Linked DNA regions of Homo sapiens. The protein of the gene in region 1 interacts with the protein of each later gene in a pairwise test. Each region holds a gene or a part of one and is shown in the gene's direction. Other genes may lie near its edges. The genes, in order: FARS2, TADA2A, RCBTB2, GRB10, APPL1, STX11 and BAG4.

What was found.
Region 2: the proteins of FARS2 (region 1) and TADA2A interact in binary tests that used the Homo sapiens proteins (3 or more experiments, as listed by UniProt).
Region 3: the proteins of FARS2 (region 1) and RCBTB2 interact in binary tests that used the Homo sapiens proteins (3 or more experiments, as listed by UniProt).
Region 4: the proteins of FARS2 (region 1) and GRB10 interact in binary tests that used the Homo sapiens proteins (3 or more experiments, as listed by UniProt).
Region 5: the proteins of FARS2 (region 1) and APPL1 interact in binary tests that used the Homo sapiens proteins (3 or more experiments, as listed by UniProt).
Region 6: the proteins of FARS2 (region 1) and STX11 interact in binary tests that used the Homo sapiens proteins (3 or more experiments, as listed by UniProt).
Region 7: the proteins of FARS2 (region 1) and BAG4 interact in binary tests that used the Homo sapiens proteins (3 or more experiments, as listed by UniProt).

Annotation. Positions count from the first base shown.
Region 1 is NC_000006.12:5,268,013-5,271,512, forward strand, and holds part of FARS2 (phenylalanine--tRNA ligase, mitochondrial), read left to right. Parts: intron 1-3,500. UniProt on the Homo sapiens protein: Is responsible for the charging of tRNA(Phe) with phenylalanine in mitochondrial translation.
Region 2 is NC_000017.11:37,476,386-37,479,885, forward strand, and holds the end of TADA2A (transcriptional adapter 2-alpha), read left to right. Parts: intron 1-411; coding exon 412-597; 3' UTR 598-3,340; downstream 3,341-3,500. UniProt on the Homo sapiens protein: Component of the ATAC complex, a complex with histone acetyltransferase activity on histones H3 and H4. Required for the function of some acidic activation domains, which activate transcription from a distant site. Binds double-stranded DNA.
Region 3 is NC_000013.11:48,495,081-48,498,580, reverse strand, and holds part of RCBTB2 (RCC1 and BTB domain-containing protein 2), read left to right. Parts: intron 1-2,259; coding exon 2,260-2,390; intron 2,391-3,500.
Region 4 is NC_000007.14:50,772,897-50,776,396, reverse strand, and holds part of GRB10 (growth factor receptor-bound protein 10), read left to right. Parts: intron 1-1,236; exon of another isoform or gene 1,237-3,500.
Region 5 is NC_000003.12:57,258,729-57,262,228, forward strand, and holds part of APPL1 (DCC-interacting protein 13-alpha), read left to right. Parts: intron 1-299; coding exon 300-352; intron 353-1,116; coding exon 1,117-1,291; intron 1,292-1,388; coding exon 1,389-1,425; intron 1,426-1,899; coding exon 1,900-2,046; intron 2,047-3,500. UniProt on the Homo sapiens protein: Multifunctional adapter protein that binds to various membrane receptors, nuclear factors and signaling proteins to regulate many processes, such as cell proliferation, immune response, endosomal trafficking and cell metabolism.
Region 6 is NC_000006.12:144,157,017-144,160,516, forward strand, and holds part of STX11 (syntaxin-11), read left to right. Parts: intron 1-3,500. UniProt on the Homo sapiens protein: SNARE that acts to regulate protein transport between late endosomes and the trans-Golgi network.
Region 7 is NC_000008.11:38,179,855-38,183,354, forward strand, and holds part of BAG4 (BAG family molecular chaperone regulator 4), read left to right. Parts: intron 1-3,500. UniProt on the Homo sapiens protein: Inhibits the chaperone activity of HSP70/HSC70 by promoting substrate release. Prevents constitutive TNFRSF1A signaling. Negative regulator of PRKN translocation to damaged mitochondria.

The DNA of each region.
Region 1 (3,500 bases):
GTCTGTTCATATCCTTCGCCCACTTTTTGATGGGGTTGTTTGATTTTTTTCTTGTAAATTTGTTTAAGTTCTTTGTAGATTCTGGATATTAGCCCTTTGTCAGATGGATAGATTGCAAAAATTTTCTCCCATTCTGTAGGTTGCCTGTTCACTCTGATGGTAGTTTCTTTTGCTGTGCAGAAGCTCTTTAGTTTAATTAGATCCCATTTGTCAATTTTGGCTTTTGTTGCCATTGCTTTTGGTGTTTTAGACACGAAGTCCTTGCCCATGCCTATGTCCTGAATGGTATTGCCTAGGTTTTCTTCTAGGGTTTTTATGGTTTTAGGTCTAACATTTAAGTCTTTAATCCATCTCACATTAATTTTTGTATAAGGTGTAAGGAAGGGATCCAGTTTCAGCTTCTACATATGGCTAGCCAGTTTTCCCAGCACCATTTATTAAATAGGGAATCCTTTCCCCATTTCTTATTTTTGTCAGGTTTGTTAAAGATCAGATGGTTGTAGATGTGTGGTATTATTTCTGAGGGCTCTGTTCTGTTCCGTTGATCTATATCTCTGTTTTGGTAACAGTACCATGCTGTTTTGGTTATTGTAGCCTGGTAGTATAGTTTGAAGTCAGGTAGCGTGATGCCTCTAGCTTTGTTCTTTTTGCTTAGGATTGACTTGGCAATGCGGGCTCTTTTTTGGGTCATATGAACTTTAAAGTAGTTTTTTCCAATTCTGTGAAGAAAGTCATTGGTAGCTTGATGGGGATGGCACTGAATCTATAAATTACCTTGGGCAGTATGGCCATTTTCACGATATTGATTCTTCCTATCCATGAGCATGGAATGTTCTTCCATTTGTTTGTGTCCTCTTTTATTTCATTGAGCAGTGGTTTGTAGTTCTCCTTGAAGAGGTCCTTCACATCCCTTGTAGGTTGGATTCCTAGGTATTAGAACTAGAAATACCATTTCACCCGGCAATCTCATTACTGGGTATATACCCAAAGGATTATAAATTATGCTCTGTAAAGACACATGCACACATGTGTTTATTGCAGCACTGTTCACAATAGCAAAGACTTGGAACCAACCCAAATGTCCATCAATGATAGACTGGATTAAGAAAATGTGGCACATATACACCATGGAATACTATGCAGCCATAAAAACGGATGAGTTCATGCCCTTTGTAGGGACATGGATGAAGCTGGAAACCATCATTCTGAGCAAACTATCGCAAGGACAGAAAACCAAACACCGCATGTTCTCACTCATAGGTGGGAATTGAACAACGAGAACACTTGGACACAGGATGGGGAACATCGCACACCGGGGCCTGTGGTGGGGTTGGGGGAGGGGGGAGGGATAGCATTAGGAGATATACCTAATGCCAGCATGGCACATGTGTACATATGTAACAAACCTGCACCTTGTGCACATGTACCCTAGAACTTAAAGTATAATAAAAAAAAAAATGAAAATAACCAAAAAAAAAAAAAGAGAAAAGAAGAGTCCTTTCATTGCTGTTTAGCAGTATCTCATTTTAGTAATTTTTCTAGTGACATATTTGAAGTTCTGATTGACTTCTTCGAATGAGTGTATTAGCCGCCATCTCTTGTTTGTTCAGGTCAGTAGGTTGTTTACAGAAAACATTTAGAATTTGCAGTGTTGAGTCTGTTTACAAAAAACAGCCTACATTTTGCTAATCACTGGAAAAATACTAGGTCAGTGTCTTAAGATGTGCAATACTGAGATCTGTGATGTTAACTGATCTCTCAGAGGATGGGTCGATACATATCGTTGATAGTATACTGTAGACTGTTATTAACAATAGAAGATATACAGAGAATTCATGATTTCTTTGGTATTATAGTGAATTACATGATTTAATATTTTATAACGTTTTAATGTAAACATTTATTTTCTGAGCACAATTGAAGCACTTCAGCCTGGCAAACTTGTAATCTGTATGTGTAATTGTGAGTTTGAGTTAACTAACAATATTTAAGAGTTATAAAAGCCTGGCTTCTGTGAAATGGATTACAGTAATATTGGCAGAGAGTAAAACAGTTAGTTTCAGTTAATGAAGATGAGTTTTTTGGGAGAATTATCTTTTTTTAAATCAATTCCTGGAATTCTGCAGTGCAAAGGGAAAGTAAAATGAAGCAGTCATGAAATAGAAAAAGCTTAGCAGGCAGCATACTTTCTTTCCTGTTTCTTGACGTTCTGAGATAAGCACATTGTTATTTATTTCAAGTCTTGGAGCACTTTGAGACAAGCACATGTGCCTGGGCATTCATAACATTAAGCCCTGTTAGGAATCCCACTTACACCCTTGGCTTCTGCGTACTGTGAGAGCTGGGCTGGATGATAATTACAGTCAGCTTTCATTTGTAGAGCCCAGGTCTTCAAATAATTTCCAAGTAAACTATCCCAGATTAATACGTTTCAGGACATAAGTGTGGTTCGCTAGAGCTGTCAAGCTGTCTGGATGCCCTTCTGTTAACTTTGTAGAAGAGATTCCACGTGTGTCAAGTTACAGTGTTTGCTGAAATTTTTCTGTTGTCTTGAAAGCTATTTGAAAATGAAATGTTCATTATAGTACTGGTGGTCAGGTATGTTCCTTAGATATATATGAATTAATGTCACCACACTATAGACAGTAATTTTTATATCACCTTCTCTCCAAAAACCTGCAGCACTTTTAGGATGAAGTCTAATTCCTTAACACAGCCTATGAGACCCTGACGACTATGGCGCTTACCCACTTCTCCAGTCCCATGTCATACCTTTTTATTTTTCGCTTGCTGCTTTTCATTCTTTAGTACTCACCTCTTTCCCCTCTACCCTGGGGACCTTTGCAAATGCTGATCCAGCTGCCTGGAGTGCCCTTCCTTCCCTTGCTAATTATTCTTCTGATCTCAGTTTAAGAGATGCTTACTCAAAGCTACCTTCTCTAACTTGAGTACATCTTCCTCTGTTAAGCTCCCTTAGTATGGTGAATTGCTCTTCAGCTTAGAGTGACTGCCATTGCAAGTAACTGAAGTCAAATTGTTTTAAACAAACCTAGTGGCTTTATTGTCTCCTGTGTCTTGAGGGTTCAGAAGCCAGATGGGCTTTAGGGTTGATTGGTTTGAGTGATGTTGCCAAAGATTCAATTTTGTGCTTTTCTCTACTTTGTCTTCTCTAACGTAAATTTTATCGTCTGGCCAGAGTCCTCTCTCTCGGTTATGGGAAACCATCAACAGTTTGGGGGCGCTTGTTTCCAAAACCTTAGAGGAGTGAGAGAGCTTCTGGACCAAGAGTGCTCAGCAGTCCTCTCCGTTCATGTCACTGGCCCTCCTTGTGTCATGTCCTCATCCATTTCTGAACCAATAACTGTGACCAGGGAGAAGATAGGATTCTTTTGGTCTTGAACCAGTTGCCTAGCTCCTAGAGATAAAGGGGAATTATTTTTTGTAAAAGGAACAAAGTTCACTAGAGCAATCTTGCCAGAGTTATATTTTTTTATTTGATT
Region 2 (3,500 bases), on another chromosome or scaffold:
TGAGAATCCAAGTGTCTGTGCATTCTGCCCCCACTGTGCCCCATGGCTCTTCCCTGACCATTGGTGCTGGGACTGTACCTGGGCATTTAGTGTTTGACTCCTGAAAGAGCCAGGCTGCTCCTCAGGAGCACATAGTTGTAAATCCCTAACAAACCCAGGCCCCTGAGCCAGCTGGCATGTGCTAAAGGCTCTTCTAGTATCACACCCTGGCTTTCTCTTCCTGGGTGTGTGTCCTTAGGGAGTGTTCTCTCCAGAGAGGAAGAGACTAAATGGAATGTAGTCCAGCCACCCATCAGCTCCTATAAATAGTTGGAGGTTGATGTCACTTTAAAAAATTTTTTGCTATACCTGCTGGATTAAATTACAAAAATGACAGATGTTAATGTTTATTAAATTTGCCGTGTCTTGCAGCTCTGTCAGATGGTGAGGTTGGTCCCTGGAGCCTATTTAGAATACAAATCTGCTCTATTGAACGAATGTAACAAGCAAGGAGGCTTAAGACTGGCGCAGGCAAGAGCACTCATCAAGATAGATGTGAACAAAACCCGGAAAATCTATGATTTCCTCATCAGAGAAGGATACATCACTAAAGGCTAAGGCTCCAAGAGCTTGGGATCAGAAGTCAGAAGTTTGGAATGTGGTGGGTCAAAGGACAATATGGGTGGGCATTCTGGAGAGTTGTTTTTCAGCTGAATTCTCATGGTGAAAACAGGGGAAAGGACAAAGGAAACCTTAAGTTGTATTGTCTACTTTCTTCTCCATCCTGCTTTAAAACACTCCTGTTGTTGGTATTATGCTGCAGAGTTGTGTGCTACATAAGCTATTATTAAATGTGAGTGGGCATTCATTCCTAACACCTCTTGTAACTAAAAGAACCATAGTACCTCACATCACAGTGCTGGTAGAAATGGAACTAAACCACAGTCTGTAATCCCAGGAGTCCAGCTCAGATCCTTATATTGCGAGGTAAGTTTGCTGATTATCTGTCTTGCCTTCAAACACTGCAGACAGATTTAAAATAAAGAGAAAGGTTTTAGAGCATAAGAAAGCTCTCGTTGAAGGATTTTTTAAGCTGACAACTTTTTTTTTTTTTTTTTGAGACAGAGTTTGCTCTTGTCCTCCAGGCTGGAGTGTGATGGCAAGATCTCAGCTCACTACAACCTCTGCCTCCCAGGTTCAAGTGATTCTCCTGCCTCAGCCTCCCGAATAGCTGGGACTACAGGTGTCCACCACCACACCTGGCTAATTTTGTATTTTTAGTAGAGACAGGGTTTTGTCATGTTGGCCAGGCTGGTCACAAACTCCTGACCTCAGGTGATCTGCCCGCCTCAGCCTCCCAAAGTACTAGGATTACAGGCGTGAGCCATCGCGCCCGGCCTAAGCTGACAACTTTTATGAGTAAAGGGGAAGAAAATATCCTTATGATGGTCTTATCCCAAACTGCATCTTTAACTTCGGCCGGGCAAGGTGGCTCACCTGTAATCCCAGCACTTTGGGAGGCTAAGGTGGGCGGATCACGAAGTCAGGAGTTCAAGACCAGCCTGACCAACATGGTGAAACAGTCTCTACTAAAAATACAAAAATTAGCTGAGTGTGGTGGCACACGCCTGTAATCCCAGCTACTCAGGAGGCTGAGGCAGGAGAATTGCTTGAACACAGGAGGCAGAGGTTGCAGCGAGCTGAGATCACGCCACTGTGCTCCAGCCTGGGCAACAAAGTGAGACTCTGTCTCAAAAAAAAAAAAACAAAAAAAAACCTTTAATGTCTGGCTTTGTACTTTGCAGTCTGCCTGTCTAATCTGCAGTAGTCTTTTGAGGAGGTGGCACCGGATATAACATGTCTCTGTTATTTTTAGAATTAATTAAAATGTTTTGCTATTTAATTTGTGGGTGTGTCAAATATTCTGGTAACTGAAACACACTTAAGGTGTTGGATGCCTGCCCCATCACGCTGCACTGTCTGCTGTCACATGTGTCCTGAACTCACCCTGTTTTTGCCCTGGGTTTCCCAGGATACCAAGCCCCTGAGGATGGAGATGATGCAACAAACCTCAGCTTTGCTTGGATTGTGACTTGAACCCTATTTCTCAATGGTGAAAGGCTAGCCTGCAATAAAAGCTGCTTTTAAAACAGAAGTAAAGCAGCTTTATATATGGGACTCACTAGATATGAGGGTAAGTAGCCCCACCACATGTAAAACTTGGTCCTCAAACGTTTCTGCAGAATAAGAAGCCAAACTTATGGTTATCTTGTTTCTGTTAGAAACAAAGTTGTATATAGAAATAACTTCGTCAGAATCGACACAAATCACATCGAATAGTTGACTGTTTAATTCCTTCTACATTCAAATATCTAATTAAAATACTGTGTGCTTTGTTGGAAGCATCTGCTCAAACTTTTGACTGTTGTAAATATGCATGCAGCTGGGAAGGGATTCATCTAAGGGATAAGAAATGAAAAAGACACTCTAAGGACCTGAGGGAATTCAAATAGAGGACTTCGATTTTTTAAAAAGAATGACGTGGAAATGACCTGTTTTCCTTGTAAAATCATATCTCGTAGAAAACATTTTACCACTACCATCACCCCTAGTTGGTTGTGAAGTGATTGCCTCTTATCCCTGAAAGGAAACTCCTGTTCTGAAAAGTTGGGATGCATTAGCCATCAGTGTTAGGTGACGTCTGTTGTAGTCTGAAGAGTCCTTAACCTTGATTAAGGAAGGCTTCCTGGGAGAGGTGGGCTTTTGGGGCAATTATATGATAGAGAAGAGAGAGAAAAATGGCAGATGGAAGTGGGAGACAATTCCACACACAGGGGGTGGAGAATGATGTGGAGGCAGCAGTGGGTGTAAGGACAATGGTGCCAAGAGATTTATTTGGCTAGAACACAAGGGGCAGCTGGGTAGTTAGGAGTGGGAGGATGGTAGGACAGTCTGACAGAAACCTTGGAAACAGTTGAACTCTGAAAAGCTGATGGCAAATCAGATTTCATGAGGAAAATGGCATGGTTGAAAATAGTAATAGAAAAATAAGACTGAAGTTTTAAATGACTGGATTTTTGAAAGTAGGATTATTATTTCTTTGGTATACCGAACTTTGCAAAGATACGTAGCATTGCATCCTTCCTCTTTGCTTCTAGACAGGGTTGGCCATAAACCAACTACACTGATAGAGGTCTCTCCAGATTGTCTCAGAAGAGAGAGTTTACCCTGAAACTTAATGACATGAATAAAACCTGTTTACTGAAATTTTTATTGCAATTTAACGTTAAAAGTTTCTGCTGGAGTTTTATGCATATTTTTCTCTCTAAGTGGTGGGAAATAAAGAACAAATCTCTTTCCATGTAATGACTCTTCTCTGTGCTCAAAGACCAAGACTCTGTCTCTTGCGATACCAATTAATACTAAATATTCAGTTTATCTTTTCCTGGGTCCCAGTTTCTTTCCTTTTATTGTTAACCGTCTTCACTTCCCCCGCTTTTAAAAATCTGAACTCAGTTAAG
Region 3 (3,500 bases), on another chromosome or scaffold:
TTTTGTATTTTTAGTAGAAACGAGGTTTCTCCGTGTTGGTCAGGCTGGTCTTGAACTCCCGACCTCAGGTGATCCGCCCATCTTGGCCTCCCAAAGTGCTGGGATTACAGGCGTGAGCCACTGCGCCCGGCCGCGAGTGGCAGTTTTTTATCGGCCCACCACTAACATTTGTGGGGCTGTAGCCAAGACTCCAAATGGAGACCTATGTTCCATATGTCTAAAAACTTAAAGTTATATGTCAAGCTAGTGAACTTCAGATAAAAATATGTCCAATCCTCCCACCTTGAAAAATGTAATTTCATTAAGAACTGAAAGGACAGGTTTCAATTTTAGTTGACATTTAGAGTTGCAGGACTTCTTGTGCCAGAACCCAATGGCACAGGCAGGACAGACCCCTCCTCCAGCAGAAGGGTGTGTGGGCACCCTAGCTTGCATTCCAAGCTCTATCCACCCCCAACCCAGGTTACCCTTTTGGGCCAGGGGGTCTGCACATTGGTGGTGGGGTCTAAGGGAGGAAATACCCACACATGTGGCCTCAAGGCCAATTATGCAGGCAGTCCCAGGTTCCCAGGTACCCAAAGTGTGGTCTAGAAGTGGGCATGTGGCTCCTTAGCCACCCTGTGCTGAAGGTGTGCGTGGAGGAGGCGCAGAGCTGGGGCTTGGGGCAGAGTCCTCTCTTAGGGCAGTGCAGCTTGCATGTGTGTCTGAAGCTTGGGGCCAAAAACAATGAAGCCATTCACAACTCAAGATTTCAGTGTCCTCCAGTGGGCTATCTGTCTTTCCTCTATAACTTTGATAATATTTGTTATTAAAAAAGCAAGTTTCCAACCAAAGTCTACCACATGTATAAGATTTATTAGCAGATAGACACAAAAACAATTAATATGGTAAAATTGATGAAATCCCTGCTCTTTATACTTCGTACACTCTATTAAGTACCTTGCATGAAAAGTTAGCTTGAGGTGGACATGACAGTGTTCTAGTAGCCGGATTCAGCTAGCCTTTTGATCCTGGCTACCACTCATTTCAGCAATGACAAACTAATTCTGACATTCTTTATGCTAATTACAAATCCTGTAATGAAGATTCAGAAAAACAAATAGGATCTTTCAGATGCTGATTGACTGCTTCAATTAGAGTACTTCCTATCATTCCTTGGGGTAGATTAAAATTAATTTACATATGTCACCTCACCCAGTCTACGTTGAATTACTTGAAAATAGGTGACAGGTAATATAACAGGACTCACCTGCATATATAGATGATATTTAAAACCCTGGGGCTGGGGTTTTGGGAAGTAAGTGAGGAAAGTGTCTGAGGATTTAACCCTGGGGCACTCAAACATTTGGAAGTCAGGAAAAATGATCCAGCCTAGAGAACTGAGGAGCAACTAATTAAAGAGAAGAAAAATGCAAGCAAGTGACAAAGTGTCCTAAGGAGAGCATTATCAACCATATCAAATTCTGTGTAAATGTCGAGTAAGAGGAAACCAGAGAATATTGCACCCTCAAAGCCACTGTGACTGCCACAGGTGTGACCACCAAGGGTGTGACTGCAGTAGTGGTGGGGATGGGGTTCTGCTTGTAATGGCTTGAGGTCAGAATGGGAGGTGGGAAAATGGAGACAGCAGATACAGATAGCTCTGTCTAGGAGTTTTGCTGTAGAGAGGAGCAGTGGGATAGGGTAACAGGAGGAAGACACGTGTCCATGAAAGGGTCTCCCCTCCCCTCCTCTCCCCTCTCCTCCTCTCCCCTCCCCTCCTCTCCCCTCCCCTCCTCTCCCCTCCCCTCTTCTCTTCTCCCCTCCCTTCCCCTCCCCTCCCTCTCCTGTCCTCTCTTCTTTTCTTCTCTTTTGTTTTCTTTTCTTCTTTTCTTTTCTTTCTTTTCACGGCGGGCACTCTTACAGCATGTGTGTGTGCTCCTGGGAGTGGCCCAGGAGAAGCTGACATTGAGATTGCAGGGGAAGGGGTCATTCAAGGCGCACATGCTTTTTTCCTAGGAAAAAAATATTAAAGCTATTTTCCCTGTGCTCCTGTTTTTCAACAGCTAATGATTTGTGTATCATGTTTGCTCAGCTTGGCTGCCATCCTGGGTAGAGCCCCACACTGAAGTGTAAGTGTCAGTCAGCATCAGTCTATGCAGTGCTTCACTGAGGATTATATCTAAAATAGTGTCAAAATCATCTCTGAGTGGCTGAGTGAGCAACTGTAAATCAGGATGCTTGAAATCACTCCCCCTAATAAACACCTCTTTCCGCCAGGACTGCTAGACTTGGCTACATTTTATAGAGAAAATCGTTTGAAAAAGCTCTGCCAACAAACTATCAAGCAAGGCATCTGCGAGGAGAATGCCATCGCTCTGCTCTCGGCTGCGGTGAAGTATGATGCACAGGTAAGGAAAGCTTGCTTCCAGCTGCCGGCCTCCTGGAGAAATGGAACCCAGGTGTCTGCCTCGTACCTTAAACTAAAAGAAAGTCTGGGTAGAGGAAATATTTAATATTTTTTAAAAAATGAAGTAACAAGAGTACTAGACAACGTATAAGCAAGTATTTATATAATGTTGGGATGGACATCAAAGGCAGAAGCCATAAAGGATTTATAGCTCTGATTTAAAAAGATAAGAAACTTTTATCCACTTAAAAATACCATAGAGAAACTTACAAAGTAATGAGACACTGGGAAAAATACTTGCAACATATAATGAAGTCTGTTTACCAGAGTGAAAAACAAAAAGACAATAGGAACAGTTTGGTTGAAAGAAATGGACCAAAGAACAAATGGCTCTATAAATAGACAAAAAACATAAATGAAAACAAGGTATAACTTTTCACCTGTCAAAGCAGGAATATATTTTTAGAGATAATGTATAGGATCAGAATAATGGTGTTCTCCTAAACTGCTGATGAGAGTACAAATTGGTATGGAGAACAATTTGGTATAATATGTATTAAGCACCTTAAATTAAAGACATAATTCTTCAAGGAATTCACTCACAAGTATTTATCTTGAGGAATTAATCATGGATTTGCACAAAGACTTAGCTTCAAAGGTGTTTACTTCAGCAGTTTATAATTTTGAAAAATCAGAAAAAGGTTAGTGTGAATAGTGGAGGCTTGTTTATAAAATGTTAATATCAAGAAATTATGCAGCTATTCAAGATATATCACTAAGTGAAAAACTTATCCTATTTTTATTTTTTGAAAAAGTATAAATAGCTGAATAAAAAACTAAAATTCATTATCTACATAGAAAAAAAGACTGAAAACTATGCTTAGTGGTTATCATTGAATGGTGGGATTGTGGGTGATTTTTATTTTCTTCTCTTTGCTTATTTTTTTTTAACTTTTACAGTGACCATGTATTGTTATGATAATAAAGAAAGGAAAGAAAACCAATCTTAGAACCAAATCTTTAGGAAACAGGCTGTAACATCTTCGAGTCAGTTTCCTTTTGGTATAAGGATATCCTCTCCTTTGGTCAAAGAAAACAGAGACATTTTAGT
Region 4 (3,500 bases), on another chromosome or scaffold:
GTAAAAAAAAAAAAAAATTAGCGGAGTGTGGTGGTGTGCACTTAGCCCCAGCTACTCAAGGGGACTGAAGTGGGAAGATCACTTGAGTCTGGGAGGTCAAGGCTACAGTGAGCCATGATTCTGCTGCTGCGCTCTAGCCTGCGTGACAGAATGAGACCCTGTTTCCAAAAAAGAAAAGGAAGCAGAATTTAAGGATATGGAAAATTTTTAGCTTGCCCAGGTTGTAAAAACATGTTTGGGAGAAAACACTAAGGGTGTGGCCAAGTGACCTTTTGATAAGGAGATTAGTATGGATAGAAGGAAGCCAGATGCTATTCATCAAGATAATGGAAGAATGATCCTGAAGGCATTTCAGAGATTATCAGTGCTGCCCCTCCCATCAGAGGCCCAGAGTACCAAGGCCCAGGGAACAGAACTTATGTCAAAGGAGAGGCCTTGGGCGTCTGCAGGACCTCAGCATTCACTGCCTGGCATCACTTCTCTGCTCTCTGCATTACAGTGCAGCCCTCCTTGGATATCCCAGCTGTAGCTCAAGGGGGCTCAAGTGCAGCTAGTTCCATTGCTGTGGAAGGCACAGGGCATAAGCCTAGGTGGCATCCACATGGCGCTAAGTCTGCAAGTATGCAGAGTGCAAGAGCTGTGGATGCATGGCTACCTTCACCTAGATTTGAAAGGATGCCTCAGAGAGTCTTGGGCTCAGACAGAGAATTGCTGCAGGATAGGTCTGCTGCAGAGACTCCCTGCTAGGATAATGCCTAATAGAGCCATGGGGCAGGAGTGCCAAAAAGAGCCCCCACTAGGGCAATGTCCAGCAGAGTCTTGAGGCTGGGGGCACACTAGCGAGCTCCCACAAGGACAATGCCTAATGGAGCTGTGGGGGTGGGGCTGCCCTCGAGAGCCTGTAACTGTAGAGTTACCCGTGTGTAGTGCCAGCCTGGGAGAGCTGCAGGTACCCAACTGCAACCTGTGAGAGCTGCTATGAGGGCTGTGCCCAGCAGTTGGCTGCAGGGCTGCCCAGGTCCTTGGGAACCCAACTCCTGCCCCATTGTGTCTGGAAGGCAGGACATGGAACCAAAGATTTATTCTCCAGCCTTACCATTGATTTAATGTTTGTCCTGTTTGGTTTTGGATTTGGTTGGGAAATGTTACCTCTTTTTTCTTTCCTATTTCTCCCTTTTGTAATGGGAATGTCTGTTCTTTGTCTGTTCCACTGTTTTTTTTTGTTTTTTTTTTTTGGAGACAGGATCTCACTGTGTCATTCAGGCTGGAGTACAGTGGTGTGATCTCGGCTCACTGCAACCTCTGCCTCCTGGGCTCAAGCTATCTTCCCACTTCAGCCTGCTGAGTAGCTGGGACTACAGGCGTGTGCCATCACGCCCAGCTAGTTTTTTTTTTTGTTTTGTTTTGTTTTTGGTATTAGAGATGGGGTTTTGCCATGTTGCCCAGGCTGGTCTCGACCTCCTGGGCTCAAGAAGTCCGGCCGCCTCAACCTCCGACAGTGCTGAGATTACAGGAGTGAGCCACTGCTGAAGTCTGAAGTACTTTGCCTCAGGTTGAAACACATCTTTGAGTCTCACATGTCTGATTTAGATGAAATTTTAGACTTCAGACTTTTGAATTGATCCTGGCCTGAGATAAGACATTGGGGCTATTGGGATGGAATGAATGTATTTTGTATGTGAGAAAGACATAAATTTGGGGGACTTGGGGTGGAATGCCATGGTTTGAATGTTTGTGTCTCCTTATGGCCTTATCACTTCCCCAACGCAACTCTATTAAGAGGTATGGCTTTTGGGAAGTGATAAGGTCATGAGGGCTCCAGTCCCATGAATGGATTCTTGCCCCCATCAAAGGGCTGGAGAGAACTAGCTAGGATCCCCTTTTTGCACTTCTGCATTCTGCCATGTGAGGGCACAGCAAGAAGGCCCTCACCAGACACCAAGTGCTGGCATCTTGATCTTGAACTTCCCAGCTTCTAGAACTGTGAGAAATAGATTTTGTTCTTTATAAGTTATCCAGTCTCAAGTATTTTGTTATAACTGCAGAAATGAATAAACACACACACATACATTGTATATAGTGTTCAATTAATATATTCACAGCTATGTGCAACCGCCACCATAGTCAATTTTAGAACAAAAAGAGACCCTGCACCCTTTAGCTATCATACCCCCACTCCCTGCCATCCCATTGCTCCCCCTGCTTTCCCAACCCTAAGGAACTCTACTTTCTGTCTGCATAGATTTCCCTGTCCAGGACATTTCATGTGAATAGAATCGTCTGTGGTTTTTGTGAGTGTCTTCTTTCACTTAGCATAATGTTTTCATGGTTAATCTATGTTGTAGCATGCATTAGTACTTCATTCCTTTTTATGGCTGAATAATATTCCCTTGTATGTGTAGTCCCAGCTGCTTGGGAGGTTGAGGCAGGAGAATGGCATGAACCCGGGAGGCGGAGCTTGCAGTGAGCTGAGATCACGCCACTGCACTCCAGCCTGGGTGATAGAGCGAGACTTCGTCTCAAAATAAATAAATAAATAAACAAACAAATAAATTCCCTTGTATGTATATACTACTTTTTGTTTATTCAACTGTTGATGGACATTTATGTTTCTACCTTTTGGGTATTGTGAATAATGCTTCTGTAAACATTGGTGTATAACTATCTTTGAGTACTTGCTTTCCATGTTTTTGTATATATGTCTAGATTATAATTGCTTCATTATATGGTAATTCTATGCTTAGCTTTTTGAGGAACTGCCAAACTGTTTTCTAGAGCAGCTGCACCATTTTACATTCCCAATAATAATGCACAAGGGTTTCAGTTTCTCCACATTCTTGCCAACACTTGGCATTTTTCGTTTCCTGTCCTCTCCTCTCCTCTCCTCTCCCCTCCCCTCCCCTCCCCTCCCCTGCCTTCCCCTCCCCTGCCTTCCCCTCCCCTCCCTTCCCCTTTCTCCCCTTCCCCTTCCCTTCCCCGTCCCCTTCCCCTTCCCCTTCCCTTCCCCTTCCCTTCCCATTCCGCTTCCTCTTCCCTTGCCTTTCTTCCCCTTCCCCTTCCCCTTTCTTTCCTTATAGCTGTCCTAATAGGTGTTACATCGTTTGGCTGTGTCCCAAATCTCATCTTGAATTGTAGCTCCCATAATTTCCACATGCTATGGGAGGGACCTGGTGGGAGGTAATTGAATCACGGGGTTGGGTCTTTCCCATGCTATTCTAGTGATAGTGAATAAGTCTCATGAGATCTGATGGTTTTATAAAGGGGAGTTTCTCTGCACAAGTTCTCTTCTCTTGTCTGCCACCATGTGAGACATGCCTTTCACCTTCTGTCATGATTTTGAGGCCTCCTCAGCCACGTGGAAATATGAGTCCATTAAACTTCTTTCTTTTGTAAATTGCCCAGTTCTCTGATATGTCTTTATCAGCAGCATGAAAACGGACTAATACAAGGCATCAGATGATTGCTCATTGTGGTTTTGATTTGCTTTTTGTTACTCAGTT
Region 5 (3,500 bases), on another chromosome or scaffold:
GCTAGCTTATTTAAATTCAAGAACTTTTGCAACATGGTTTATTATGTTGATTTTTTGTTGTGTATGTCTAAACTTCCAATTCATCTGTGTCTTCTAAAGTGCACCAACATTGATCAGTTAGTGTGTGAGGGCAGAGGCCTTCATCATAGTAATTTAGTGATCAATAGTGTTTCTTAATAGGATGGGGCATTTTAGAGCTTTTTTTTTTTAAATGTTAACTGTGGTTTTAATAATTAGATTTCTTCTATGTGGCTCATGGTAACTGACCATGTGTTCATATTTTCTTCTAAACTTTTTAGGCGTACAAATCCATTTGGAGAATCTGGAGGAAGTACAAAATCTGAAACTGAAGGTAAGACAGATGTGCAGCATTCATATATTTTAGAACTGCTTCTCAGCAAACTGTGAATAATTTATTGTTTATATTTGCTCTGCTACTAAGCTCAGTTTTAATGCTATCTTTACTTCAGAATTTCCTCTACTTACTTATAGTACACTTGAAGCAACAGAACTTAATCTGACTTAAGATGTTGTGATTCATACAAAACGATAGACTCTCATACTTTTGACTTTATAGTCAAATTCAGTGCCTAAGATACCTTTCAAGCTTTTCCTAACAGCTGATGTTTCTCTTCTGGTACTGGAGCATAAATTTTGTTTTTCCGCCACTAACTATTTATTTGAATTCTAAACTTACAGAAATGCTGTAAGAACCACCAGTTGTTGTGTGTTTGTGTGTGTGTGTGTGTGTTGAGACAGGGCTCCCTATGTTGCCTAGGCTGGTCTCGAACTCCTGGGCTCAAGGGATCCTCCTGCCTTAGCCTCCCAAAGTGCTAGGATTACAGGTGTGAACCACCACGCCTGGCCTCAGAACTGCCAGTTGTTGAAGCATTACTTTTAGCTATTTGAATTTGAAACCCTAATTTTCCTATAACTTGGAATACTGTAGTTAGGAGTTATTTTGAAATGTCTCCCTTAGGCTGTTGAATTTTTCACTAGAAAACCTAAAAGGAGGCAGTGTATTTTATTCTTTTGGAAAAGAAATATGGCGAAAAAAATAAAATGTAAATTTATACAGTAAAAAAAAAATATGTAATACACCTTGTTCTATTATAGATTCTATTCTTCATCAGTTATTTATTGTCCGATTCCTTGGTTCAATGGAGGTGAAATCAGATGACCATCCAGATGTTGTTTATGAAACTATGCGCCAAATCTTAGCTGCCCGGGCCATCCATAACATCTTTCGTATGACAGAATCGCATTTATTAGTCACTTGTGACTGTTTAAAGTAAGTAAAACCCTCCCTTAAAAAACTGTAGAAAAAACATTTACATGATTTCAGCCTAATTAAAATTTGTTTTCCAATTTTTAAATTATTATTTTAGGTTAATTGATCCACAGACACAAGTTACAAGGCTCACGGTGAGTTCCACATGATTTAAGCTTTGTTTTAGGTCCCTTTGTATATATACACATCTTACAACTTGATAATAATCCTGATCCTGTATATTCAAGTGTGATAGTATCAGCTATGATTGGTCTTTGGCTGTTGTAGTTAAGTCTATGGCCATCTCCAAAAAGTTGTCATTGAACATTTTATGTAACTTAAAAGAATTAACACAATTCTTTTTGTAATTTTTTTAACACAGTTCTTTTTGACTTTGTAAAATGTGTTAATGACTAATAAAACAAATGTAATATTCAACAACCTTTTTCTGCTTGTTAATTCAAACCAAATATGACATTACTTGTTTCTGCATTACAAGTCTGTTAAAATAATTGGCTTTAATATATTAAAATATTTATATTTTTAGAACTTAGCATATGAGTTTGTCACAAGTGCTGCTGTAATGACTTGTAAGATCTCATGTTTGCTTCTGATGTTTTCTGTGGCAGTTTCCATTACCTTGTGTAGTTTTGTATGCTACACACCAGGAAAATAAGCGCCTTTTTGGATTTGTTCTTCGGACATCAAGCGGGAGAAGTGAAAGTAATCTGTCATCAGTCTGCTATATATTTGAGTCAAACAATGAGGGGGAAAAGGTACATGGCTTTTCAGAATATCTCTGTCATAACCACTTACTAATTGATTCTTACTAAGATTTAATAATAATTAAATTCTTACAAATTAAATTAGTTAGTAATTACTGATTGAATTCTTTACAATTTATACAAATTTATGAGGCACATGTGAATTTTGTTACATGTATAGAATGTACAGTAAGCAAGTCAGGGTATTTAGGGTGTCCATCATCCAAGTACAATACATTTTTGTGAAGTATAGTCACCCTACTCTGCTGTCAGATATTAAATATATTCTTTCTATCGTAATTTATGGTTGTACCCTTTAATCAGCTTTTCTTCATCCTCCCCCTTTCCTCATCACTCAGCCTTCCCAGTCTCTGTTGTCTGTCATTCCACACTCTGCCTCCACGTGATCAATTTTTTGGCTCCCACATACAAGTGAGAACATGTGATATTTGTCTTTTTGTGCCTGGCTTATTTCACGTAAGATAATGACTTCTAGTTCCATCCACGTTGTTGTGAATGACATGATTTCATTCTTTTTATGGCTGAATAGTACTCCATTGTGTATATGTACCACATTTTCTTTATTCATTTATCTGTTAATGAACATTTAGATTGACTTAATATCTTTGCTATTGTGAATAGTACTACAGTAAACATGTGAGTGCAGGTATCCTTTTGATACAGATTTCTTTAATTTTGGGTAGATACCCAGTAGTGGGATTGTTGGATCGAATGGTAGTTCTATTTTTAGTTTTTGTTGTTGTTGTTGTTTTTGAGACGGAGTTTCACTCTGTCGCCCAGGCTGGAATGCAGTGGTGCGATCTTGGCTCACTGCAACCTCTGCCTCCTGGGTTCACGCCATTCTCCTGCCTCAGCCTCCCGAGTAGCTGGGATTACAGGTGCCTGCCACCATGCCCGGCTAATTTTTTGTATTTTTAGTAGAGACGGGGTTTCACCGTGTTAGCCAGGATAGTCTTGATCTCCTGACCTCGTGATCTGCCTGCCTCAGCCTCCCAAAGTGCTGGGATTACAGGCGTGAGCCACCATACCCGGTCTATTTTTAGTTTTTTGAGAGATCTCCATACTGTTTTCCATAGTGGTTGTACTAGTTTATGTTCCCACCAACAGTGTATGAGTTCCCCTTTTTTCTGCATTTCACCAACATCTGCTATTTTTTGTCTTTTTAGTGATAGCCATTCTGACTAGGGTAAGAATGGCTCATTGTCATTTTGATTTGCATTTCTCTAATGATTAGTAATGTCGAGCATCTTTTCATATACCTGTTGGCTGTTTTTGTGTCCTTTAAGAAATGCATATTCATATCCTCTGCATACTTTTAAGTGGGATTATTTGATTTTTTCCCTGTTGAGTTCGTTGTATATTCTGGATATTAGTCCCCAGTTGGATGAACAGTTTGCAAATAATTTCTCCCATTCAACAGGTTGTCTGTTTACTCTGTTATTTCT
Region 6 (3,500 bases), about 140 Mb from region 1:
AATGCAGAGGCCTGCTACATGATGCTGTCAGGACTTGACTGAAAGGCGCAAGTTCAGTGTCTCAGGTCAAGTTGCCAGGAAACAGACCCTGAGACTCTGAGATTTCCATACAGGAGGTTTTTATTGGGAAGTGCTCTGGGCACAATACACAGTAGGAGAGAGGGAAACGGGATTGCACAGGGGGAGAGACTGAACTGTGGGGCATGCACAACAGCGGCCTCAACAGGGAGGAGCTTGGAAGCTGGGATTGTTGTTCAGAATTGTTCTGCCTCCTGAGGCAAGAGGCTCAGCATTTGTACCTACATCAACTAATCATTGGATGCAGGCAGCAGCTCCCTTCAGTCCAGGGCAATTTCTGGAACTGGGAGCCTTCAGCAGCCAACCTTCCTAGTACCTGGGGGACTGAGGATCTTGGTCCAGAAGGGGATCTGGATACCACATCATTTACTACATTTGTAGCCAAGAGAGCATTCTCCTCTGCAACAGCCTTGTTTGTGTCTGATGGCCCAGACCATCACCTTGCAGAGTGGAGCCCAGAAAGTTGTCATTTTTTTCCAAGGCCCTTAAGGATTTTAGAATAGTTGACCAGAGAGCAAGAAGACAAAGTAGTCTTAATCCTAAGAAGATTAGGAGCAGAAGAGCCAGGGAGAGTAGGCCGTGGTGAGGGCAGTAGTGGTGTTTAACAAAGAAGGCTAAACTCTGGCACCCAGAGTGGCTAAACTCAGCCACCCAAACAGCTGTGGCTATCCAGACCCAGAACAAAAGCATAACACACACCAGTCCTTGCTGTAATGCTAGGCTTTAACATTGTTAAATGTTGAACAATTTTGTGATATTAGGGTTCCCCCCGCTCTCTCTCTCGCTCTCTCTTTCAAGCCCTTGAAAGTCCTCAAACCAGTCCAGTGTGTAGTCTGTAGATTATAACCTTCAGAATTACCAAAGATATTTCAGTACAAAAAAAAAACAGGGGAAAAACAAAAAAAAAAGAAAAGAGAAATAAAAGTCCAGGGCCCCATTCTAGATCCACTGGAATAGAATCCAGGGGTGGAACCCATGAATTGACATTTTCAACACATTTTCCCCAGAAGATTTTGATACATGCTATAGTTTGAGAACCTTCACCCTAAACTCTTATGCCTTTCGTGGTGACCAACTCTATTGAGATTTTTTCAGATTATCCAGAAGTCATGGGAACCGTGGGACAGCAGAGGAGCACCGGAGCCTTAGTCCCAGCAGGCCTGGTATAGTGAGAGTCATCCCTTGCTTTTCATTTAAATTCTTGATGTGGCCAACAGACAGCACAGCCCAAATTCCTTTGCTGGCTTCTGACCAAGATTGCAAGAGGGAGAGTGGTGTCCCTGGCTTGGCCTTATACTATCTTAGATAGCAGAGTGAGAGATGCCAAATTTTTTGAATAGTTGCAGATGGGGGATGGGAATCAGTGAACTTAGAGGAATCAGTAAACTTTCTAGGAGAATAAGAAGGTTTCAGGATATCTTATGCCAGAGGAAGCTTTGAGGTGCTTTTTTTTAAACTTTAATAATTGTCTAATAAGATCAGAGATAACTTACAGGATAATGTTAAGCATTCATAAATGTAGGATGGATTTCTAGGAGAATAAGAAGGTTTTAGGATATCTTATGCCAGAGGAAGCTTTGAGGTGCTTTCTTAAAACTTTAATAATTGTCTAATGAGATCAGAGATAACTTACAGGAGAATGTTAAGCATTCATAAATGTAGGATGGTATATTATCTGATTCACTGACATTGGCAATGATTTTTTCTTCAAAGGGAAAAGCACTTTTAAGCCTACCAATTTTTACTCCTGAAACACCAAATTGCTGTGTTTCTTACACTTTCCAGGCTTCATGCCTTTGCTGAAGTTGTCTGTGCCTGGGTCCCTTTCCCTTCTCCCTACCAAGCTAACTCCTTTTAAACCTTTTAGGATCAGCTCAGACACCACCTTCCCTGCCCTGTGGCCAGACTGACTTCTCAAAGTATTCCCATAGATCCCTCTATTATGGCATTTATTATCATTATTCTCTCTAACAGCCTGTAAGAGCAAGAACAGTCTTTTTCATTTTTGTGTATGAGAGACCTAGCCTCATCAAAAATGAGTGAAAAAAATAACGATTCTGGTGAGCGTATTTATTCAACAACTATTTATCGAGGCTTTCCTATATGCCGGGTGCTCTGGAGTAAATGGTGCAGACACAACAGGTACAGCTCCTGACCCTATGAAGCTTATGGGCAAGCAGAGAAGATAAGTAACAATTGAATATGTTATCAAACAACTACCAATAAAATATGGTGAGTACCAGAAAAAGCGAAGTGAAATTATAGAGCTGGAAACCCAGCCTAGTCTAAGGTCAGAGGAAGTGTCTCATTTTCCTGAAATATAAGTTATATCAAAATAGAAGTTACGGATTTGGCTTTGGTTACAAGAGACTACTTTTTAACAAAGGAAGATCTTTTGGTTGAGCTAGTTCAAAATTGACTCTGTGTGTGTGTGTGTGTGTGTCCGTCCAGTATGTGGAAAAAGACAGTACAGGAAAATGACGCCTTCATTTAATGAGGTAAAATAGGTAACAAGGAACGGAGAGGGAAGTTTCTGTGTGTCTCATTCAATGCACCATTACTAGAAGTTACTTTGTTAATATTTTAATATGTAATATACAGTGGAAGAAAATAAATGTAAAGCTCTGAAAATCATGAACTTACATCACAGCCTTTTAAAAATTAATCTCAAGGATCTGATTACTACGGCCTAGGAGGGTGCTTGACAGATTTGCTTTTGGGTCTTGTTGGAGACAGTGGGTGAAGTGCATTGCCCCAGAAGTCCATGCCCACTGAGGTTTCTCATCTTTCCAGGTCACTTTTGATGCCCTGGGTGAAGAGGCCACAACCCCAGTGTTGCAATTTGCAACCTCCACCCAGCTTGGTGGCTCATGCTGGGTCCTTTTTCTCCTTTTCTGGCCAGTTCTTGTTTTTTAAAAAAATATTATGATTTTTGAGAGACTCTGTCGCCCAGGCTGGAATGAAATGGCACAATCTCTGCTCACAGTAACCTCCGCCTCCCGGGTTCAAGTGATTCTCCTGCCTCAGCTTCCTAAGTAGCTAGGACTACAGGTGTGCACCACCACACCCAGCTAATTTTTGTATTTTTTTAGTAGAGACGGGGTTTCACTATATTTGGCCAGGCTGGTCTCGAACTCCTGACCTCAGGTGAACCGCCTGCCTCAGCCTACCAAAGTGCTGGGATTACAGGAGTGAGCCACTGTGCCTGGCCTTTTTAAAAATTATTTTTGTACCTCCTTATTTCTCCCCATAAATTGTAAGCTTAGGGTAAGGTTTGAGACTTCCTGATTTTTAACTTTTGAAGCTTTGCAGCTCTTCTGCTGCAATTTATTTACATTTATTATATTCAATAGATAAAGGACCTTAAGTTTAATATATAAGTTAACAGGCAAATCTTGGGTTGAAAAAGTACCAGATTCGTT
Region 7 (3,500 bases), on another chromosome or scaffold:
TTGGCCAAATTAGACCAAAAATCAGTTGAAGTGGGGAAAGAGGAGAGGACCTCTAAACTGATGACTGACTTTTGCTGGGCCTGCTGTATTATCAAAACCAAAGTCTGTTTTCTGGCATAGAGTTAGGGAGGGTTGGATAGACTAAAGAAGTTAAGATTTTAGCATTGTGTAAGGGGTTGTCAGGTGTGGTTTGAGTACATTTGTGCCCACAGGGTGGGTGATGGTGCTGAAGTAGTTGGAGATAAAGGTGGAAATGTGTAATGGGCATTTGTAAACCATTTTAATAGTTTGTACTATCTTTCAGATTGATGATTCTGAAACTTTAAAAGTATAGGATGGTAATTTTTCTGCAGCAATAGAAAACTCATACCAAAGATATGTATGTTGGCCGGGCGTGGTGGCTCACGCCTGTAAACCCAGCACTTTGGGAGGCTGAGGCAGGTGGATCACCTGAGGTCAGGAGTTCGAGACCAGCCTGGTCAACATGGCGAAACCCCACCTCCACTAAAAACACAAAAATTAGCCAGGCATGGTGGCGCATGCCTGTAATCCCAGCTACTAGGGGCACTGAGGCAGGAGGATCATTTGAACCCGGGAGGCAGAAGTTGCAGTGAGCCGAGATCATGCCACTGCACCCCAGCCTGGGCAGCAAAGCGAGACTCCGTCTCAAAAAAAAAAAAAAAAAAAAAAAAAAGATATGCATGTTGTCACAGATGTTGCAATGTTTTTTCCAGATTTGTTATTTTGACTTTTTTTTATGTTTTGCATTTTTATAGTATACATCTGTCAAATTAAAAAAACAAACAGTATAGGAACCTTTTATAACCTTGCTACTCAAAAAGTGTGGTCCATGGACTAGAAGCCTCGGTGTCACTTGTGAGGTTGATAGAAATGCAAAATCTCTCCTCTTCCAGACTTACTGCTGCAATTTATTAAGATCCCCAGGTGATTCATATGCACATTAATATTTCAGAAGCATTGCTCTATAGAACTGATTATATTTAGATGATGTACTGAACTACAACACAGACTTGACTATATTAACACATTTAAGTATGGCAGGGAAAAAATTAGAAATCTATCACTATTTTTTTTTTTTTTTTTGAGACCGAGTTTCACTCTGTTACCCAGGCTGGAGTGCGGTGGCCTGATCTCGGCTCACCGCAAGCTCCGCCTCTTGGGTTCACGCCCTTCTCCTGCCTCAGCCTCCCGAGTAGCTGGGATTACAGGCACCCGCCACCACGCCCGGCCAATTTTTTTGTATTTTTAGTAGAGACGGAGTTTCACCGTGTCAGCCAGGATGGTATCGATCTCCTGACCTCGTGATCCGCCCGCCTTGGCTGGGATTACAGGCGTGAGCCACCGCGCCCAGCCTTTTTTTTTTTAAATTTTTTTTTGAGACGGAGTTTTGCTCTTTTTGCCCAGGCTGGAGCGCAATGGCGCCATCTTGGCTCACTGCAACCTCCACCTCCCAGGTTCAAGCGATTTACTGCCTCAGGCTCCCAAGTAGCTGGGATTACAGGCACCCGCCACCATGCCCGACTACTTTTGTATTTTTGGTACCCGGCCACTCCCTATGTTTTTTTAGAGTAAAACTTTAGGCTGGGTGCGGTGTCTCACGCCTGTAATCCCAGCACTTTGGGAGGCTGAGGCAGGCAGATCATCTGAGGTCAGGAGTTTGAGACCAGCCTGGCCAACGTGGTGAAACCCCGTCTCTACTAAAAATACAAAAATTAGCCAGGTGTGGTGGCTCACACCTGTAATCCCAGCTACTTGGGAGGCTGAGGCAGGAGAACCACTTGAACCTGGGAGATGGAGGTTGTAGTGAGCCGAGATCACACCACTGCACTCCAGCCTGGGCAACAGAGCAAGACCTTGTCCCAGAAAAAGAAAAACAAAAATTAGCCGGGCGTGGTGGCGGGCGCCTGTAATTGCAGCTAGTCTGAGAATTGCTCAAACCAGGGAGGCGGTGGTCGCAGTGACCGAGATCATGCCACGAACTCCAGCCTGGGCTGCCTAGCGAGACTATCTCAAAAAAAAAAAAAAAAAAAAAAAAAAAAAAGGAAGTAAGGGAAAAGAGTTAGAGTTGAGAAACCTTTTGAGCTAAAGGGAGAAAAGTAACAAGTTTGGAGTTGGAGCAGAGGGGCATTGACAGCTATTGGTCTCCTTTCGTGGTGGAGTAGGAAGCTAGGTCATCTTACAGTAAGGGAAGTAGAATGGGATGCTCTGCAAAATTTATGTGGTAAATGTTTGAACCAGATGCTGGGGCAAGAGGGACAACACAGAGAAGCATTTGGAAGAGATCCAAATGAGTTTGAAAAGTTAAAAAATTATGATGGTCAGTATAGGAGCATAAGGTGATTTGTTAGTGATTATGAACCATATAGCTATACAAATAACTTATGTACTTTACTAATAATTTTTGTCCAATTCTTATGAAAAATATAAGCAAATCTGTAAATGGAATTTATGTAGTACGAGTGCTACTGATTCCTCTGCTGTTAGATTTGCTTGGACTGGGGTTTCAGTTTGGGGGAATGTTGGTAAGTCATTTTGGAAAATGTAATCACATATCCACTTTAAAGGAATTGACTCCAGTCTTCAGCTGGGATTATTTATTTCTCAGAAGAAAGGAAATAAATTAGTTATCTTGCATAATTTTAATCAAATTTTCTTTGGCATAGAACTTTAATTCACATTATTGTGGCTTGTGAAAACATTTTATTACCTTTGTTTTAGTTTGTATTTCATTCAACAAATAAAAAGTTTGGAAAGAGTTAGGCACATGATAAAATTGGTAACTTAGTTTATAGAATAGAGTTCAGCTTCAGCCAGTTTCCTGTGAAACCAAATGCTATTTCATAGAATTAGTGTCATGTTGGGAGGGCCATGAGCTACAGACTTTCACTGTTACTAGGGATATTTTTAGATTTGTCCCATTTTGTCCAAAAGGAGGAAAAAAAAGACAAAGACATTATTTTTTTCCTTAAGACAATAAAATTATACTTTTTAGTGCTTCATTGAGGACATTCTTTTTTTCATTAAAAAAATTATGGCATAATTTACAAAAAGTAAATTTCACTGTCTTTAGGGTATAGTTCTGTGAGTTTTGATAAATACATACAATTACATAACCACCACCACCACCACCACCACAACTGAGCTATACATACTGACCCATCTTTTTTTTTTTTTTTTTTTTTTTTTTTAGACAGAGTCTCTCTTTGTCGCCCAGGCTGGAGTGCAGTGGCGAAATCTCGGCTCACTGCAAGCTCCGCCTCCCGGGTTCATGCCATTCTCCCACTTCAGCCTCCTGAGTAGCTGGGACCACAGGCGTCCGCCAGCAGGCCTGGCTAATTTTTTTTTGTATTTTTAGTAGAGATGGGGTTTCACCATGTTAGCCAGGATGGTCTCGATCTCCTGACCTTGTGATCCACCTGCCTCAGCCTCCCACAGTTCTGGGATTACAGGCATGAGCCACTGTGCCTGGCCACCTTTAA